Linked DNA regions of Homo sapiens: regions 2 and 3 are each linked to region 1. The links come from fine-mapping of genetic effects on gene expression. A gene starts in region 1. Each other region holds a variant in brackets. All regions are shown on one strand. Distances are between the middles of the regions.

Region 1 (7,085 bases):
CATGCATGTCTGTGTATGAACTTTCCATTCTAATTAGTAAGATTTTTGGAGTCAGAAACAAAGTAACTCACTAAATTACCTAAAAATATAGTATAAAATCAGGGAGAAAAGATTTCCCCTTATTTGTCTCCTTTTCTAGAATTTACCACATACTTCGTGGACATTAATACGTGACTTCCATTGGCAGCTGCTCTAATCCTGGTCCACAGAGAGTTGACAGAGCATCCAGATGTGGCCCCTGAACAATCCCTGCTGCCCAACAGCACTGACACCACGGGACCCTCACCCCGTCTCCATCCATGTCTGGGTGTGGGCCCTTACCAGGACCATGCCCAGTGCAGCCTCTTCCCAAGTTCATGTGATTGGGTCACAAGAGATGGAATCTAAGTGAGATGAGAGGGACTGAGGGAAGGCATGGGTGAGTGTGAGCAAACCTGTCAGGCAGGACACTTCTTGAGACCCAGAGAAGATTCCCAACTCCAAGGCCCAGGGTTTCTGAAAGGAAAGAGACAGAACAATCCACCGAGAATATCATCTCACCTGAGGAAGAACCATTCCTGACGCCTTTGCTTTCCTCTTCCCCTTCCGGGTTTCTTCCTCATGTACCAAGAGTCCTTAGAAGTCAATCCTGAATGTTAAAAATATGTTGTTTATTGCTCAGAATCAATACACCCCATTCCTGTAACATAACAACACATACAAAGGAGACCTCACCCTGAGGAAATATGGTCCCCTCTGCTGCCCACTGCACCAGAGACGATAAACTCCTACAGGAAAACTCCCGCACCCTTCTGGAGAAGCCCACACCACACCCTTCTGGAGGAGTCCACACACGCTGCAGCAGTGGGGAGCTGGGCTGGAATGAGCTCCTCTTCAGGGCGCAGACCCAGCCCTGACCAAACCCCATGCAGAAACTGGGTGCAGTGGCTCATGCCTGTCATCCCAGCACTCTGGGAGGCTGAGGCAGGTGGATCGCTTAATCTCAGGGGTTTGAGATCAGCCTGGGCAACATGGTGAAACCCCATCTTTGCCAAAAATACAAAAACATAGCCAGGCATGAAGGTACACGTCTGTGTGTCTATGTTCCCAGCTACTTAGGAAGCTGAGGAGACAGAATCGCTTAAGCTCAGGAATTAGAGACCAGCCTGCCAACATGTTGAAACCCTCTACTAGAAATACAAAAATTGGGCTGGCCACAGTGGCTCATGCCTGTAATACTAGCACTCTGAAAGGCCAAGGTGGGCAGATTGTTTGACGTCAGGAGTTCGAGAGTAGCCTGGGCTACATGGTGAAACTCCATCTCTACTAAAAATACAAAAAGTAGCTGGGCTTGGTGGGCGTCTGTAATCCCAGCTAGTTGGGAGGCTGAAGCAAGAGAATCGCATGAATCTGGGAAGCTGAGATTGTGGTGAGCCGAAATCACGCCACTGCACTCCAGCCTGGGAAACAACAGGGAAATTCCAACTCAAAAAAAAAAAAAAACTATGTAGACCACGTGCGGTGGCTCTTTCCTGTAATCTCAGTACTCTGGGCGGCCAAGGCAGGAGGATACTTTGAGCCCAGGATTTTGAGACTAGCCTGGGAAACACAGTGAAACCTCGTTTCTACAAAAAAAAAAAAAAGAAAGAAAAAGAAAACTAGCCGGGCTTCTTGGTGGCTCATCACTGTGGTCCCAGCTACTTAGGAAGCTGACGTAGGAGGATTACTTGAGCCCAGGAGGACCAGGCTGCAGTTAAAGATCATGCCACTGCATTCCAGCCTAGGCAATTGGCCAGACCCTGTCTCTTAATGTTAGTTAATTAATTAAGTTAAAAATTATGTGTTAACAGAAAGGGATTTTTTTCTCACTTCACTGCCCCACTCCCTACCCCACTCTGGGAAAAGGGAACAGAGTGACTCACAAGTGAATAAGTCACTCCACTGTAGCTGAATAGGGATTCCAAGTGGAAGCTAACCTCTGAGGCCAACATTCATAGAATGTACATGTCTTATAGATAGGATTCTTAAAATTCTCAATCTCATCTGTATAATTTAAGCAGTTTTAAGTTACTAGATTATATACAAAGAAGTCAAATGTCACAACTAATCGTATCCAATGAACTCACCCACTCATCTAAACCCAAAGTCCTCCGCCCCTTTTTTTCTTTTGAGACAGGGTCTTGCTCTGTTGACCAGGCTGGAGTGCAGTGACATGATCTCGGCTCACTGCAGCCTGGACCTCCTGGGTTCAAGTGATCCTTCTGCCTCGGCCTTCAGAGTAGCTGGGATTACAGGTGCACACTATCATGCCCGGTTGTTTTTTTTTTTTTTTGGTAGAGATGGGGGTCTCACTATGTTGCCCAAGCTAGACTCGAACTCCTGTACTCAAGCAATCTTCTTGCCTCAGTCTCCTAAAGTGCTGGGATTACAGGCGTAAGCCACTGCGCCCAGCCCATCTTTCTTCATTACTGTGCTTCCCTCCCTAATTGTGTACATATCTCTCATTCTCCCCTTCTCTCTCTAGCTCTTGTTTTCTTTTCTTTTTACCTGGCATTCTGCTCCTCATTTTGTACCCCTCTCCTCTCCTGCTGTTTATCCCCTTCTTCCCTCTATTCCTTCTCTTCCACCTCTTCTGCTCCATCCTCGCAACTTACCTAACTTCTTGCTGTTCCTTCTCCCCAATCGTTCTATCGTCCTCAATCTTGATATATTTCCGCCTCTTCTCCCATCTCTGTGCATCCTCTGCTCTCCCTGTTAAATTCCGTCTTCCCTGTTATACCCCCTGTCCCCAATATGTGGAACCACAGATCCCCAGGTGTCCTCCCTGCTGTGGTTCTCCCTCTGTTCTCCTTGCCACCAGCACCACTCTGCTCTGTCTGCCCTGGCTCCAAATCCCTCCTCCTCTCCCTCACTCTGATGAGATTCCCTCTTTGCTGCCCCTCTCCCTACCTTGCTGTCCTTCATCTCTCTGTACATCTAGGTTTCTCTACGTTTCTCCAGTTACTTTTCTCCTCCTGCTTTCTTTTTTTTTCTTTTCACTTTTGCTGTCTCTTGACAAATCCATCACCCACCCTCTACTTTGCCCTCTGTTATGGGTCTTTCTCATTCTTTTCTCTGTCTCAGCTTTTCTACTGCTCTGTCTCCCAATGCCTTTGGCCGACACAATCACAGGAGGGTTTGGATAAGACGCCTGCATCCCGGAGGAGCTCGTTTTCCGGGGGCTGGAGCTGGGCAGGCAAGAACACCCCGTGTCACAGGACAGGCCCCGGGTACCTCCCCAACGCGGGTTCAGGGGAAGAGGTGACTGTGGAGGAGAGACCTGTGGAGCAGCAGGGCCCGCCACGAGGAGGGAGGTGGGGGGGAGACGGCGCCTTAAGACAAGGTTGGGGTCTGCAGGATTCCAGGACCAGGCAAAGTACGCGGCCTCCCTGGGACTGGGGCCCTGGCGCTGCGCTCCAGTGGCCTACGAAGGCGAGGGTGGGAGGCGCCCAGGGCGGGAATCCAGCTCTCGGGTGAGGACTTTAAAAAGCGAGGGGCGGGAGGAGTCAGAAAACAGTTTTGAGCAGGAAAACTACGCGACAGGAAGTGTATACATCGCCCTACAGCAGAAAGACCGGGGACAGCCCAGCCTCAGGGCGACTTTAAACCCAAAAGGAAGCGATATCCGGACTCTCATGGGGACGTCTCAATTTGTCCTGGGTGAAGGAAGAAGGGAGAGAATTTCCAGGTCTGTGGGGACCCCACGTCTCAGGTACAGCAGCGCCGGGGACCTGGTAAGCGCAGACTTAATAGAAGAGCGAAACTCACCGCCACGGTGTAACTTTCACTCCACATAATCCGCTTCCGGGTTTGCGCGCATGTGCGCGCGCAGTACAGAAGCCAGGTCTGGGCGGGGCCCGCGAGGTGGGCGGGGCCTGGATGAGGTAGGGGCGGGGTGGGAAGCCGAGAGACTTTCCCCTTTAGAACCAGCAGTGGGCGGGGCCAGGGCGGGACCTGTGAGTCTCTCAGCATCGTTCCCAGCGCAGAGGCATTTTTCGGGTTTTGGAGGCGAGACCGGCCAGGAAGGCTGAGGCATGATTCAAAAGCCCTGGAATTATCTGGAACGGGGATGCAAACTAGAATGTGAAATGCAAAGCCCTGCCTGGGCGGAAGGTACAATTTCATGCTGATAGCCCACAGAACCGAATAGAAATCCTCTCCCTTTCTATTCTCCATTCACTTGGGAGAGAGTCCACGCTGTGCTCAGCTTTAGAGACTCAGGCCACTGCCTGAGATGCAGGATGGAGTGCTCAGGCCAAGGATGGGTGAGGTCACCACCTGCGGCTTAAACACAGCTGGGATATGGGCGCGGGAGTGGGAGCCTGAGGTCCCAGCTATTCAGGAAGCAGCGGCGGGAGGATCGCCGAGCCTGGGAGTTCAGGCCAGCCTGGGCGACAAAGTAACACCCCCTCCCGCAGGGCTCCCTTCCTCGTCTCTCTCTCTCTTTTCTTTTTTATAATAAAATTTTTGATGATGTTACATAGGGATCCAACATTATTCTTTTCCACGTGGATATCCAGTTAGTTGTCCCAGCGTATTTGTGTAAGAGATCTATCAGTTTCTTTTTTTGTTTCTTGAGATGGAGTTTTGCTCTAGTTGACCAGGCTGGAGTGCAATGGCGCGATCTCTGTCTCCCAGGTTCAATCGATTCTCATGCCTCTATCTCCCAAGTAGCTGGGATCACAGGGATGTGCCACCATGCCCTGCTAATTTTGTATTTTTAGTAGAGATGGGATTTCTCCATGTTGGTCAGGTTGGTCTCAAATTTCCGACCTCAAGTAATCCGCCCGCCTCGGCCTCCCAAAGTGCTGGGATTACAGGTGTGAGCCACCGCGCCCGGCTTATTTTCTTTTATATATTTAGTTTTTTCTATTTTTTTTTTTTTTTTTTTTTGAGGCAGAGTTTTCTTTTTTGGCCAGGCTGGAATGCGGTGGCGAGATCTGGGCTCACTGCAGCCTCTGCCTCCTGGGTTGAACCGATTTTCCTGTCTCAGCCTCCGGAGTAGTTGACATTACAGACGCGCACAACCATGCCCGGCTAATTTTTGTATTTTCGATACAAACGAGGTTTCACTATATTGGCTAGGCTGGTCTCGAACTTCTGACTTCAAGTGATCTGACTGCCTCAGCCTCTGAAAGTGCTGGGATTATAGTCATAAGCCACACTTCCTGGCCCAAAAAATATTCATTTCTTTACTCTTTAAATTTTGAGAAAATATAATGGAAAACAAAAAAAATCTTCCCCCCAATGAGAAATCATCTTCACGATGATAATAGTGAAAGAAATAAAAACCACATTATTAATAAGTAAGCCTTAAACCAGAATGTGATGGGAAATTGAGGCAAACAGCTAAGAGGTTGAAAAGAGACAAGGAAACTTCACTGTTCTATACAACCCATTGAGTACATGTTTTCAAGATAAACACTAATCAGTCCTCAGGGAAGAGGACTTGACAACACTCTTGGTCACACATAGTTCATCCTGGCTCTATTTGGTAATGGAGGTGACCATCTGTGTCAGCTAATTAGCTTCATCCAGAGGGAGGGGGAAAACCCTAACCCATGTCTTTTTGACGAGTGTGAGTTTTACAACATAGCGACGCGTGCCCTCTCTGGTCAGGCGCCTACAATCCGACAGAAACTGACGTCAGCAGTAAATAATAAAATTTAGAATGTAAGATTAAGTACTGAGTTTATGTGAACACAAAGCTTGAAGAAAGCCACCTGGAAACACCAACTCCAAATAAATGAGATCGGCGTTCCAAAGTAGAGACGTTAAGGTTTCACACACAGGGAAAGACAGAGAATCTTTAGCAGAATCATGACAGCTTTCATTCAAGCCCAGTGCATAGGTTGCAGCAACTTGATTGGTTATGGATTGATACAATTCGAGGAAGGTCACTTTATCACTCCATAAGAAGTAACAATGATCCCATGAGGTCTTATCTCTGGGGCTGCTTAGTCTTCCTAATTATTAACAGGAAAACTCTTTTTTGTTTTTCTTTGAGAGGCAGTATTGCTCTGTCGCCCAGTGGTGCAATCTCAGCTCACTGCAACCTCCACCTCCTGGGTTCAAGCAGTTCTACTGACTCTAATTGTCAGTCCTCTCTGCAACCAGCGCCCCAGTCCACCCCTTTACTGAGGTCCCTGCCCTCCCCACTGCGCTGCCCCAGACTGAGGGGGGAGTTCGCCCCGACTGCAGGACTCTGCCTGCTCAAACAAGGCGCTTTGCATTAAAACCATTTTCAACTTAAGAGGAAAAACGATTCAGTGTTCAGTACAGGTGTCCTACTACAACATGTTGTTTTATCTTCGATTGTCTGAAACACTAACTTGAAATGGGCAGGAAACATCCCTGTGATATTAGGGGTAATATCACGGCACATCAGAACCAATCCACCAATCAGAACTCGGAGGATTTAGTCCAGGCGGGCAAGAGGATGACAGCAGGCGACATCTGGGGCCCAGCTGAGGAGAGAGCCCGAACCCGACCCTTGCCGGCCCCCACCCTTCAGAACAACACCCCCTCCAGACCCCGCCCCCAAGATGACGATAACCCTCTGGTTCTGCCCTTTCCCATTGTATGGCCTGGCCCCCAGGCGGCCTCCTCCCTCTTGCCCCGCCCCAGTCTTGTTCCAGGCACCGCCCCCACGCTCTAGCTCTCCTAGGTTCCTGCTTAAGTTTATACACTCATGGTCCACAGAGTCCTAAGCAGAAATATGGAAGACACCAAGCTCTGGTAATGTATCTATCTGACAGACTGAGCGTCTGCCTCAAGAACATAGCAATAGCAATACTAAGTGAAATATTAGGAAGTTTCACGTATGTATATAATTGATCATTTATTATTTGCAGCTTTAAATTGGCTAAAATTACATAGCATGGGTTTTTATTTTAATCAAATATTAGAAATATATCATTCATAAATGGAATCTAAGCACACAAAGTTGAAGAGCATTTCCCTATGTTGAATAAATATGAAGGAGTTCAGATTTTGGAACTGATTTAGTGCTTTCCATTACACTTAGTTCTTTTCTTTTCTTTTACTGTTTTTTGAGATGGAGTTTC
Region 2 (7,085 bases), 110 kb after region 1:
AGAATGGAGAATGGCATGACTTTTACAAAGCATACTGCATGCAAAAATACTGTTAACAAGGCACAGCCCACACAGCCCTAAATCCATTAAACCTTGATTCAATACAGCACATGTTTCCGTGAGCACAGGGTTGGGGCTAAATTTACAGATTTATAGTATCTCAAAGCAGAACAGTTTTGCTTCATACAGATCAAAATGGAGTTTCTTATGTCTTCCTTTTCTATATAGACACAGTAACAATCTGATCTCTCTTTCTTCTCCCCACAAAAAAAAATATGAGACTTCATGTTAGAAATGACTCATTCCCTTCCTGGGGCAAAAACCCACAGACAGGAGAGATTTCACCCGTAGAAAGATGGTCGTCTGCTTCCCACTGCACCAGAGATCATGCAGAGATAAGAAAGTCCCACAGGAAGACCTACAAGTGTATATTTGACCCAGGTCTTCAGATCTCACTCCCCTCCTAGAAAACACCCACATACGAGGTAACGGGGGGGCGGGGGGGAGCTGGGCTGGATTGATCTCCCCTCGGCACAGACTCGTCCCTCATCCCTCATCAATCCCCATCTGGAGGACAGCCCCTCACTCTCTGTGGATCACAGGCTGAGCTCAGCACTCAGAAATGGAGGACACAGAGCTTCCATGCTCAATGCTGCACACAGATGACAAGCACCTGCGCCACTGCAGGTATTACTGAGGGTGGGTTCCAACCCATCAGAATAAGAATCCCTGCTAAAGCAACACAAAAGCTCTATTTGCAAAATGCTCTGCACTCTAATGTGAAGCCAGGGTTGAGCTCCACTCAGATGGGGCGAGCCCAGCACAGCCCCAAGTTCTTGCTCCGCCCTCCCCTTGGGGCCTTGTGCTCACTAGGATCCAGAGAGTGGATGACAAAGGCACAAAAGTAATCACACAGAACAGGCAAGATAGACCAGAGGTGGTGTGAGGGTTGGGCTGTGTGAAAGGAAAATAAATTTGGGGACCCCAAATCACTAAGCAAAAGGGAAAAGTCAAGCTAGGTACTGCTTAGAAAACCAGACTCACCTTCTATTCAAAGTCACCACTCTGCTCCCTGACATACATGCTTATCTGAGTGCCTCCTTTGGCAACGCTAATCAGAAACTCAAAAGAAGGACCCAGCACAGTGCCTCAGGACTGTAATCCCAGCACTTTGGGAGGCCAAGGCAGGCAGATCACTTGGGGTGAAGGGTTCAAGACTAGCCCGGCCAACATGGTGAAACATCTCTACTAAAAATACAAAAGTTATCTGAGCATGGTGGCATGCACCTGTAGTCCCAGCTACTTGGGAAGCTGAGGCAGGAGAATCACCTGAATGCAGGAGGCAGAGGTTGGAGTGAGTCAAGATCCTGCCATTGCACTCCAGCCTGGGCCACAGAGCAAGACTTCATCTCAAAAGAAAAAAAGAACCTCAAAAGATCGCAACCATTTGTGCCTCACTTATCTGTGACCTGGAAGCCCCCTCCCTGCTTCAAGTTCAAGTCTCCCTGGCTTTGTTTAAAGTTGTCCTGCCTTTCCAGACCAAACCAACGTACTTGTTACTATATTGACTGGTGTCTCCCTAAAGTGTATAAAATTAAGCTGTGCCCCGTCCACCTGGGGCACATGTCATCAGGAATTCCTGAGGCTGTGCCACGGGTGTGTCCTCAACCTTGGTGAAATAAACTTTCTAAATTAACTGAGATCTGTCTGAGAAGTCCTGGGCTCACAGCTGCAATGTCAAATGCGGATCTGTGTGAGATCACAAAGGTTTCCACACAGAAGGTGATACCAGAACAAACACCTAGGGAAGAAATGATGCTTGTCACTTGCAGCTGAGGGGACAGAGAGTCCTAGGCAGAGGGACAGCTCAAGCAAAGGCCCTGAGACAGGAGCAATCTCAGCCCCAGGAAGAGGAAAGTGGCCCGTGTGGGTGGAGCAGTGGAAGAAAGGAGGGCACAGATAGATGAGGTCAGAGAGGTCCTGGGGGCACAGATCCATAGGGACAAGGTCTTCAAACATTTTTCTCCCACAACCCAAAAGAATATTGAAAACCAACTCTGATCCCAGCTATTCGAGAGGCTGAGGCAGGAGAATCGCTTGAACCCGGGAGGTGGAGGTTGCAGTGAGCCGAGATCGCACCACTGCACTCCAGCCTGGGCCACAGGGCGAGAGTCAGTCTCAAAAACAAACAAACAAACAAACAAACAAACTGAGCACTAACCTCTCGAGAAGAAAAGCCACACACTGTATTTTGCCAGTCATTTCAGGGGTCACTGTCACTGTGACTGAGCTTTTCCAGTCTTATTCCTCACCTCTATGTTAAGGGGGGCTCACTGAGGCTCACAACGGGAGACATTTCACCAAGTTATCCTGAGAAGCTCTGAGGTGAGTAGAAAATAGGTGTGGCTGACTCCCACGAGATGGCCTGGAAGGGCCAATAGGCTGCCTTGGTCTTCCTCCTCTGGAAAATTGCAAGATCAGACGGGAGTCGTGGCCCAGCTGGGTAATCCCAGCACTTTGGGAAGTTGAGGCAGGCAGGTCATTTGAGCCCAGAAGTTTGAGACCAACATGGGCAACAAGGGAGTCTGGTTTAATAACTATATTTCCTACAACTAGCATATAAGGGGGCTTTACACAACTTTGCAAAGGAACTGTTAGACTGGAATTTAGGTCGATAGTATAAAATGGCTTACGATCTCTTGTTTCTATAGCTTGATTTCCAGACCAAATTTTAATGCGGTATGAGGCCACAGTAAGACTCTATAATTTTGGATGTTCAGGACCAGAAACAGAACTTATTATCTTTGTTCTTGGAGTAGAGATTTTTTTTTCTCCCCATTCCCAAGGGTAGAAAGA[C/T]GGCAATTTTTTGTGCTTATGTTTGGCTAAACTTTTTGTTAAGTCACTGTTAACAGCTGGACTCACTTCTGCACTGGGACATGACTGAGTTTGTCCTGTGCAATTGTGGTAGAATTGACCTCGAGGTGCCCAATCTATAATAGTTCCGAATTTATCATTTTGTAATATCACCGCACTATTGGCCACACATTCTTCCCAAACTAAAACTTTTGTGTCTTTTGATCCTTTGGGATTTTTTGGGGGTAAGGCTTTCCTTTAGGCCTAAATTTTAATGATCTTTGATAAGAAAAGTCTTGTAAATAATTTACCTGTGGCCTGAGTGACATTCCACTTACCGCGTGATTAGTGAATCTACTGGTGGTACCGACAGTAGGTACTTCTACCAACCAATTTTTGACTGCAGGCATTAAACATCCTGGTGCTCTCCCGAGGCAAATAGGAGGATAATGATACCCAGTGGAAATATTTATCATCATTCCTTCTTCCTCAGGTTTGGCAGGGCAACGATCATCTGTGGGGCCAGGTACCCATACACTATTATTAACGTATACTTCAATAGGATTATCCATCCATGAGACTGCCCGAATTAAGGGCGGGAAAGGCACATAGGCCCAGTAGGTATAATTAGCTGCAGCTGCTCCTGCAGGCGTGGGGAGACTTACCACCGTTGATACAATCATCAAAGCTGCAAGCAGCGTGTTCTCTGGAGTTTGTGTCACCTTTGTGTTCTCTAGGCTTTTTTAAGCTAACTGTGTCAGCTTTTAAATTGTGCCCAAGTTGGCAGCTCCGCCTTCGTGGTGGATGGCAACTTCATCTGTTTTTTTGACATCACCATTTTGTTTATCTTGTGAGTCAATGGTGCTCGATTGCGGTGTTTCCGTCTCTGTGGAGGCGCTTTTTTTTTTGTTTGTTTGCATCTCTAATGGGTTCATTGTAGAACTTTAAATGTCTAGTGGGTATCTAAACAGGAAGCTGATTTTCTCCTGGTGAAACACAAGCAAAACCTCTCCCCCACGTTACCACCTTCCCTATTTCTCATGTCTTATTGTTGTTGTCTTTTTATCAAATCAGTTTTCCTTCACGTAGGCTGTTCTTTTTACCAGTAAGATGTTGTTTTGCAGAGGTAGTAGTCTGATTTCTATAAGTGTTTAAAACATTTAAAGTATAGAGTGCTAGATTAAGTTGCATCTGAGGAGTGGTACACTCCTTACTGTCTCCCCCTTCTCTTTAACTGAGTTTTGAGTGTTCTATTAGTTTTTTTAACTATGGCCTGTCCTTGGGAATTATAGGGAATTCCTGTTTTGTGTGTAATTTTCTACTGATTTCAGAATTTTTGGAAAGCTTTACTATAGTATCCAGGTGCATTGTCAGTTTTGATTTTTTTCTGGAACTCCCATGACAGCAAAACAAGATAATAAATGTTTTTTCACATGGGAAGTACTTTCTCCTGTCTGGCAAGTTGCCCACATGAAATGTGAATAAGTACCAACTGTTACACGGACACATCATAATCTTTTAAATGAAGGTACATGTGTGACATCTATTTGCCATAATGCATTAGGACATAGACTTCTGGGATTAACTCCTGCCTCTTGAGTGGGCAGGTGTAGGACTTGACACTGGGTGCAATGTTGTACAATATCTTTTGCCTGTTTTCATGTGACATCAAATTTGTTTTTTAATCCTGCTGCATTTACATGAGTCAAAGCATGAAGTTCTTGTGCTTTTATGAATGCAGATGGTACCAGTAAGTCAGCTTGTTCATTTGCTTTAGCTAAAGGCCCTGGTAAATTAGTGTGTGCTAAAATATGAGTAATATGAAATGGGAAATTTTTTTTTCAGTTTGTTGTAATAAACTGAACAGCTCGTTTAACTGATCATCTATGCTATATTTAATTAGAGCTGTCTCAACATCCCTTGTAGCCTGCGCTACATATGCAGAATCTGATACAATATTAATAGGTTGATCAAAGTCTTATAACACTGTAATGACTGCAACCAACTCTGCTCTTTGAGCCGATTGATATTGAGTTTTGATGACTCGCTGTTTTGGCCCTGTGTAAGCTGCTTTTCTATTGCTGGAAGCATCAGTAAACACTGTCAGAGCATTTTCCAAAGGTTTATGTCTGGTAATTTTAGGTAAAATCCAAGTAGTCAATTTTAAAAACTGGAAGATTTTTGTTTTTGGGTAATGATTATCAATAATTCCCACAAAATTAGTAAGACCAATCTGCCATGCATCAGAATTGATAAAGGCTTGTCTAACCTGTTCCTTGTTTAAAGGAACAACTATTTTGTCTGCGTCATTTTCACACAATTTTATTATTTGTAATCTTGCCTGACCAATTAATGTAGCTATTTGATCCAAGAACAATGTAAAAGTCTTAATTGTACTGTGAGGAAGGAATGACCACTCCACAAGATCAGTATTTTGAACAATGATGTCTGTTGGAGAATGTGCAGTAGCAAAAATCAAAAGTTGGAGTGGGGTTAAGGGACCTTTGTGCTGACTGATTTTTTTCTTTTACTAACTTAATTTTTTTTGTTGCCTCTGGGGTTAATATTCTTTTACTATTTAAGTCTGGGTCCCCTCTTAAGATAGAGAACAAATTTGACATGGCATAAGTAGGAATGCCTAGAGTTGGCTGAATGTAATTAATATCTCCTAGCAAGTTTTGAAAGTCATTTAATGTTTTTAATGTGTCTTTTCTTATTTCTACTTTTTGTGGCTTAATTTTTCTATTTTCTATCTGCATCTCTAAATAATGAAAAGGAGTAGAGGTTTGAATCTTATCAGATGCTATTGCCAGTCTTGCGTTGGCAACCTCTGCTTGCAGAAATGTGTAACAGTCAGTTAATTTGTCTCTTGTTTCTGCAGCACACAAAATATCATCAACATAATGAATGATATAACAGTCTGAAAACTTATCTCTAACTGGTTGAAGAGCTTGACCTACGAAAGTCTGACAAATAGTTGGACTATTAAGCATTCCCTGAGGTAACACTTTCCACTGAGACCTGGTGGCTGGTTCCTTATAATTTATGGCTGGTATAGTAAAGGCAAATTTTTCAAAATCTTTCTCCACCAGAAAAATGGTAAAAAAGCAATCCTTTAGATCAATTATAATTAAAGGCCAGTCTTTTGGGATCATGACCAGAGAGGACAACCCGAGTTGAAGAGGCCCCATGGGTTGAATGATGGCATTTACGGCTCTTAAGTCAGTTAACATACACCATCTGCTGGATTTTTTCTGAATTACAAACACAGGAGAATTCTAAGGAGAGAAAGTGGGTGAAACGTGTCCTTTTTAAGTAGTTTTTTAACTATTTTATGTAGCGCCCCCAAATTTTCCTTAGGGAGCAGCCACTGTTTGACTCAGACAGGATGCTGCAAGGCAAGTCTGAATTGCTCCTTCACCATAATGAACTGTAAGTTGGGCAATAATGGGCACAGCGAGCCAAGTTGCAGTGAGCCTAGTTTCAGGCTCCCTCCCCCAGCACTCACTTGGCTGAGGAGGAGGTGGCCATCGTGGTTTTAGCCCCTATGACCCCGATGATTCTGGACCTTTTTCTTTTAACTTTAATGTTTCAGAATATATTACCTCTTGTAATTGATTGTAGTCAACATTTTGCTTTGACCGACCCATTACAGACTCTGCTACATATTTACAATGTGAACTTTCCGTTCCTTTCTGGGATTCTGTCCCTGTCTCTTCTTCACAATCTATTACATAGCTTTTAGGGCCATCAGAAACTGAAACGCTGTCTTCTCCTGTTTGAAACGGTTTTAAAGCTGCTTTAATAATGGCCCAATCATTCCATACCATAAGTGGGATGATTTTACCCTCCCTACTTCTCTGTTTTAATTCTTTGCCAATTTTTTCCCAATCTTTTAGATCTAAAGTTCCCTGTTCTGGAAACCATGGGCAGAATTGTTCTATTGTTTCAAATAGCTTGATTAGATTTTCTGTAGAGACTCTAACTCCCCCTTTTCTTAAAAGAATTTTAATAAAGCTGAGATAAGAGGCATATTTACTTTTAGCTTGTCCCATTGTTACCCTGGCTTTTTTCGAGCTCAGGAGCTTACCGCAAGGCTGACCGTAGAAGTACTTGGGAATCTCTCGTTGACTTGTCCTCAATAACCACGCTCAAGCGTAGGTTTACCCTAGAGAAAAGCCCCACATTAGACACCAGGTGAAGGTGGCCAGCCCCTCTACACCTGTGAGTCT
Region 3 (7,085 bases), 52 kb after region 1:
AAAAATTACATATATATATATATATATATATAAATAAATGAGAAACCAGAAAGAAAAAAAAAAAGAAATCTATTACACAACAAGAACAAAAGCACTTTTGATACCCCTTTTATTTTTTATTTTTTGTTTGTTTGTTTTTCTGAGATGGAGACTCGCTATGCCACCCAGGCTGCAGTGCAGCAACATGATTTCAGCTCACTGCAACCTCTACCTCCCAGGTTCAAGTGATTGTGTACCTCATCTTCCTGGGCAGCTGGAACTACAGGTGCACGCCACCATGCCTGGCTAAGTTTTGTATTTTTCATAGAGACGGCGTTTCACCATGTTGGCCAGGCTGCTCTTGAACTCCTGACCTTACGTGATTCTCTCACCTCGGTCTCCCAAAGTGCTGGGATTACAGGCATGAGATACCACACCTGGCTTTGATGTCCATTTTAGAAAGTACTATGGGCTGGGTGCAGTGGCTCACATCTGTAATCCCAGCACTTTGGGAGATCGAGGTGAGCAGATCACCTGAGGTCAGGAGTTTGAGACCAGCCTCTCTAACATGGAGAAACCCTGTCTCTACTAAAAATACAAAATTGGCCCAGAGTGGTGGCGCATGCCTGTAATCCCAACTACTCAGGAGGCTAAGGCAGGAGAATTGCTTGAACCCAGAAAGCAGAGGTTGCACTAAGCTGAGATTGCAACATTGCCCTCCAGCCTGAGCAACAAGAGTAAAACTCCATCTCAAAAAAAAAAAAAAAAGTACTATGTAGGCCAGGCGCAGTGCCTCAACCCTGTAATCCCAGTACTTTGGGAGGTCAAAGCAGGAGGATCCTTTGAGCCCAGGATTTTGAGACCAGCTTGGGAATTTAAAACCCCGTTTTACAATTATATATATAGATATATAATTTATATAGCTATATAAATTATAATATAAATTATAATTTATATATATATAATTTATATAGCTATATAAATTATAATATAAATTATAATTTATATAGCTATATAAATTATAATATAAATTATAATTTATATATCTATATAAATTATAATTTATATAGATATATAAATTATATATAAATTTTATATATAAATTATATATATAAATTATATGTGTAAATTTTATATATATATAAATTTTATATATATATATATATAATGTATATATATATAATGTGTATATATATATATAATGTATATATATATATATATATATATAATGTATATATATATATAACTAGCCGGGCTTGGTGGCTCATGTCTGAGGTCCCAACTACTCAGGAGGCTGAGGTAGGAGGATCACTTGACCCCAGGGGGCCAAGGCTGCAGTTAGAGGAGATCACGCCACTGCACTCCAGCCCGAGTGATACAGCCAGACCCTGTCTCAAAATATTAATTAATTAAATTAAAAGTATTGTGTAATAACAGAAAGTGATTTTTGTTGCACTTCACTGCCCCACGTCCTACCCCACCCTGGGAAAAGGGAAGAGAGTAACTTCCAACTCAATAAGTCACTGCTCTCTGGCTGAATAGGGATTCCAACTGGAAGCTAACCTCTGATGCCAAGATTTACAGAATGTACATGTCTCATAGACAGGAATTTTAAAATTCTCAATCTCATCTTTATAATTTAATCAAGTTTTAAATTATTAGATTATATACACAGAAGTCAACATGTCACAACTAATCATAGCCAATAAACTCACCTACTCATCTGATCCCAAAGTCCCCCTGCCCCTTCTTTTCTTTGGTAACAGGGTCTCACTCTGTTGACCAGGCTGCAGTGCAGTGGCATGATCTTGGCTCACTGCAGCCTGGACCTCCCGAGCTCAAGTGATCCTCCTCCCTTGGCCTCCAGAGTAGCTGGGATTACAGGTGCGCACCATCATACCCGATTAATTTTTTTTTTTTTTTGGCAGAGATAAGGATCTCACTATGTTGTGCAGGCTGGTCTAGAACTCCTGGACTCAAGCAATCCCCCTGCCTCAGTCTTCTAAAGTTCTGGGATTACAGGCATGAACCACTGTACCCAGCCTCTCTTTCTTCATTACTTTGCTTCCTTCCCTGATTCTGTACGTATCTCTCATTCTCCCCTTCTCTCTCTAGCTCTTGTTTTATTTTCCCCCGGGGTTCTGCTCCTCATTTTGTACCTCTCTCCTCTCCTGCTGTTTATCCCCTTCTTCACTCTATTCCTTCTCTTCCACCTCTTCTGCTCCATCCTTGTAACTTATCTAACATCTTGCTGCTCTTCTCCCCAATCTTTTGATCATCCTCTATCTCTATATGGACAGAAATTTAAAAATAATAAGTACTGCATTTATTCACTCCAAGAAAAGTAAAAGCTAAGGCCCACAATGTGGCAAGGCAAGGTTTAAAAATAAAAAGAAAAGAACAAGTTTTCCTCTGCCTGTCAAGCTCACATCAAGAACGGTTACAGGATAACGCTGTCCGAATAGCCAAGTCTAAATGAATGGGCTCCAGACACCCCCACCTTCCAGAGCAAGGTTGAAGGAAAAAAAAAAAAAAAAAAAAAAGAGAGAGATTATTTTACTGTTACTCTTTTTCCAGGCTTCTTAAGCATTATTATGTTTTACAAATGTCTGTATTTAGTCAGTTCTTGTTTTTCCTTTGATGCAGCTACAAGGCCACCGGCAACCCAAGGTCACAAGATATGTTATGCTATAGATTACACAACCTGTCACTGTATAATTAACTGCTTTTGTTTTGCTTTTGTAAGGCCACTTATAAAAACCCTGCTCTGTCTTTGTTCAGTGCTCAGCTTTTTGGATATGAATCCACTGAGCCAGTGCGTACCTAAAATAAACAATTCTGTTTCTCTCATATTGGTCTCTCCATTCTTCAGTTTCCCCTAACACAAATATTTCCGCCTCTTCTCCCATCTCAGCGCCTCCTCTGCTCTCCCTGTTACATTCTCTCTTCCCTGTTATACCCTCATCCCCACTCTCTAGCAC[T/C]CCAGATCCCCAGGTGTCCTCCCTGCTGTGCTTCTCCCTCTGTTCTCCTTGCCACCAGCACCACTCTGCTCTGTCTGCCCTGGCTCCAAATCCCTCCTCCTCTCCCTCACCCTGATGAGCCTCCCTCTTTGCTGCCCCTCTCCCTACCTTGCTGTCCTTCATGTCTCTGTACATCCAGCTTTTCTCTACATTTCTGCACTTGCTTTTCTCCTCCTGCTTTCTTATCGTTTTCTTTTCACTTTTGCTGTCTCTTGGCAAATCCCTCACCCATCCTCTACTTTGCCATCTCTTATGGCTCTTTCTCATTCTTCTTTTCTCTGTCTCAGGTTTTCCACTGCTCTCTGTCCGTCTCCTGATCCCTTTGGCCCACACAATCACAGGAGGGTTTGGAGTAAGACGCCTGCATCCCGGAGGAGCTTATTTTCCAGGGGCTGGAACTGGGCAGGCAAGAACACCCCGTGTCACAGGACAGGCCCCGGGCACCTCCCCAACGCGGGCTCAGGAGAAGCGGTGACTGCGGAGGAGAGACCTGGGGAGCAGCAGGGCCCGGCACGAGGAGGGAGGTGGGGGGCGACGGCGCCTGAGGACAAGGGTGGGGTCTGCAGGATCCCAGGACTAGGCAGAGGACACGGCCTCCCCGGGACAGGGGCCGCGGCGCTGCGCTTCAGAGGCCGACAAGGGCAAGGCTGGGAGGTGCCCACGGCGGGAATCCACTTCGCGGGTGAGGACGTTAAAAAGCGCGGGGCGGGAGGAGTCTGAAAATGATTTTGAGAAAAAAAAAAAAAAAACAACAACAACTACGCGATAGGAAGTGTATACATTGCCCTAGAGCAGAAAGACAGGGGATGGGACCAACCTCAGGGCGACTTTAGACCCAAAAGGAAGCGACTTCCAGACTCTCACGGGGATGTCTCTATTTGCTCTGGGTGAAGACGGGAGAGAAGTTCCAGATCTGTGGGGACCCTAGGTCCGAGGGACAGAAACGCTGAGGACCTGGGAAATGCAGACTTAATACAAAACAGCGAAACTCACCGCCGCGGTGTGACCGTCACTCCACGCGATCCGCTTCCAGATTTGCGAGAATCTGCGCGCGCAGGACAGAAGCCAGGCCTCGGCGGGCCCCGCGAGGTGGTGGGCGGGGCCTGGGCCGGGTGGCGGCGGGGCGCGAAGCAGAGAGACTTTGCGGTTTAGAACCGGCAGAGGGCGGGGCCGGGGCGGGACCTGTGTGTCTCACATCCTGGCTCCCAGCGCCTCTGTTTTTCGGGTTTGGGAGGCGACAGCGGCCAGGAAGTATGAGGCATGATTCAAAAGCCCTGGAATTTTCTGGAACGGGGATGCAAACTAGAATGTGAAATGCAAAGCCCTGCCAGGGCGGAACATAGGATTTCATGCTGACGGCCCACAGAACAGAACAGAACTCCTCTCCCTTTCTATTCTCCATTCACAAGGGAGGGAGGGTCCGCCCTGTGCTCAGCTTCAGAGACTTCCCTAAAGCCACTGCCTGGGGTGCGGGACGGAGTGCTCAGGCCAGGGAGGAGTGAGGTCACCACCTGCTGCTTAAACACAGCAGGGGTGCAGGCGCGAAGGCGGGAGCCTGAGGTCCCAGCTACTCAGGAAGTAGGAGCAGGAAGATCGCTGAGCCCTGGGGTCCAGGCCAGCCTGGGCGACAAAGTAACACCCCCTCCCGCAAGGCCACCTTCCTTGTCTCCCTCTCTCTCCGTCTCTCTCTCTCTCTCTCTCTCTCGCTTTTTAAACCTTTTTAAATAAAATTTTTGATGGTGTGACATAGGGATCCAACATTATTCTGTTCCGTGTGGATATCCAGTTAGTTGTTCCAGCACATTTGTGGAAGAAATCTATTACTTTTTTTTCACGTTTTTCTTTTCTTTTTCTTTGAGGGAGTCTCCCTCTGTCGCCCAGGCTGGCGTGAAGGGGCGTGATCTCTGCTCACTGCGACCTCTGCCTCCTGGGTTGAAGCGATTCTCCTGCCTCAGCCTCCGGAGTATTACAGTATTACTGGTATTAGAGGCACGAGCGACCATGCCCGGCTAATTTTTGTATTTTTGATAGAGGCGGGCTTTCACCATGTTGGCCAGGCTGGTCTCAAACTCCGAACTTCAAGTAATCTACCTGCCTCGGCCTCCTAAAGTGCTGGGACTACAGGCGTGGGCTACCTTGCATAGCCTAAGGAATGCTCTTTACTGTTTAAACGTTGAGAAAATATAATTGAAAACAAAGAAAATCTTCCCCCAAATGGGTAATTATCTCCACGACAACAGAGAAATAAATAAAAACCATTTTAATAAAGAACCTTAGACTCAAATGTGATGGGAAATAGAGGCAAACAGCTATGAGGTTGAAAAGAGAGAAAGAAATGTCACTGTTCTATACAACCCATTAAGCACATGTTTTCAAGATAAACACTAATCAGTCCTCAGGGAAGGGGATTTGACAACCCCTTGGGTCACACATACTTCATCCTGGCTTTACTTGGTAATGGAGGTGACCATCTGTGTCAGCTAATTAGCTTCATCCCGAGGGAGGGGGAAAAACCCTAACCCATGTCTTTTTGACAAGTGTGAGTTTCACAACATGGGGACAGGTGCCCTCTCTGGTGAGACTCCTACAATACGACAGACACTGATGTCAGAGGTAAATAATAAAATTTAGAATATATGATTAAGTGCAGAGTTTGTTTGAACACAAAGCTTGGAAATAGCCACCTGGAAACATCAACTTCAAATGAATAGGATCAGCGTTCTCAGGTGGAGACGTTAAGATTTTACACACATAGGAAAAGACAGAGAAGCTTTACCAGAATCACATTTTCCATTCAAGACCAGTGCCTAGGGTGCAGCAACTTGACTGGTGATGGATTGATACACTTCAAGGAAGGTTACTTTATCACTCCATAAGAAGGGACAATGATGCCAAAAGGTCTTAACTCTGGGGCTGCTTAGTCTTCCTAATTATTTACAGAATAACCTTTTTTTTTTTAGTTGTTTGTTTGTTGTTGCTGTCATTTTTTCAGACAGCGTCTAGCTCTGTCACCCAGGCTGGAGTGTACTGGCACTATCTCGGCTCACTGCAACCTCCACCTCCCGGGTTCAAGCAGTTCTCCTGCCCCAGTCAGCCAGGTAGCTGCGATTACAGGCCAGTGCGACCACGCCTGGCTAATTGTTTTCTGTTTTTAGTAGATACTGGGTTTCACCATGTTGGGCTTCTCCATTAATCTCTCCTGCACACTTCAGACCACATCCACACACACTTAAATCAACTTCAGTTCAGAGATGAGAAGCAAAAACCTAGAGAGGACACATCCACAGTTACTCACCAGGCTGAGGTGGGAGGATTGCTTGACCCTGGAGAGCAGAGGTTGAAGTGACTCAAGATCGCACCACTGCCCTCCAGCCTGGGGGACATAGTGAGACCCCGTTACCCACATCCACCAAAAAGTTGGAAATGCATTGAAATAAGAGACAGCTTCAAGAAACTATAAAAGCAATGCATGCAGAAAATTCAAAGGTCAACCAACATACAGAAACTATGAAGAACTACACAGAAACTCTTGGGCTAAAAATAGAGTAACTAAATGAAAAAACGCAATACATGGGTTCAAAATCAGAATTCATTAGGTAAATTAAAAATTAGTGAAGAGGGGATGGGTGAGGTGGCTCACACCAGGACTTTGGGAGGACAAGGTGGGTGGATCACTTGAGCTCAGGAGTTTGGAGACCAACCTGGCCAATGTGGTGAAACCTTGTCTCTACTAAAAATACAAAGATTAACAGGGTGTGGTGGTGAGCTCCTGTAGTCCCAGCTACTCTAGGGGCTGATACAGGAGAAGCACTTGAACATGGGAGGCAGAGGTTGCAGTGAGCCGAGATCACCCCACTGCCCTCCAGCCTGGGCGACAAAGCAGGACTGTCTCAAAAAATAATAATAATAATAATAATAAAATAGGCCAGGCCTGGTGGCTTATGCTTGTAATCCCACTATAAAAAAAAAATACAGAAAATTAGCCAGGCGTGGTGGTGGGCACCTGCAGTCTCAGCTACTCGGGAGGCTGAGGCAGAAGAATGGCATGAACCTGGGAGGTGGAGCTTGCGGTGAGCTGAGATCATG

Evidence for each region.
Region 2: its variant is fine-mapped to the expression of ZNF83 in fibroblasts (GTEx, PIP 0.91).
Region 3: its variant is fine-mapped to the expression of ZNF83 in skeletal muscle (GTEx, PIP above 0.99).

The regions. Positions count from the first base shown.
Region 1 is chr19:52,634,526-52,641,610 of GRCh38, forward strand. It overlaps ZNF83 (zinc finger protein 83), which reads right to left and starts at 3,830. Exons shown (of 3, transcript NM_018300.4): 1 at 3,787-3,830; 2 at 541-628. LOC137778871 (a long non-coding RNA gene) reads left to right here. Exons shown (of 3, transcript NR_197425.1): 3 at 140-1,054. It also overlaps the pseudogene LOC124904757. RefSeq lists enhancers at 2,758-3,276, 3,277-3,794, 3,548-3,667 and a silencer at 3,878-4,077.
Region 2 is chr19:52,742,442-52,749,526 of GRCh38, forward strand. LOC105372452 (a long non-coding RNA gene) reads left to right here and starts at 2,299. Exons shown (of 2, transcript XR_936060.3): 1 at 2,299-2,385. The variant C/T (reference allele first, on the strand shown) is at 2,857.
Region 3 is chr19:52,686,451-52,693,535 of GRCh38, forward strand. It overlaps LOC122539214 (Zinc finger protein LOC122539214), which reads right to left and starts at 4,046. Exons shown (of 4, transcript NM_001396016.1): 1 at 3,993-4,046. It also overlaps a transcript of ZNF83 not described here. RefSeq lists enhancers at 3,180-3,715, 6,910-7,085 and a silencer at 4,009-4,218. The variant T/C (reference allele first, on the strand shown) is at 2,961.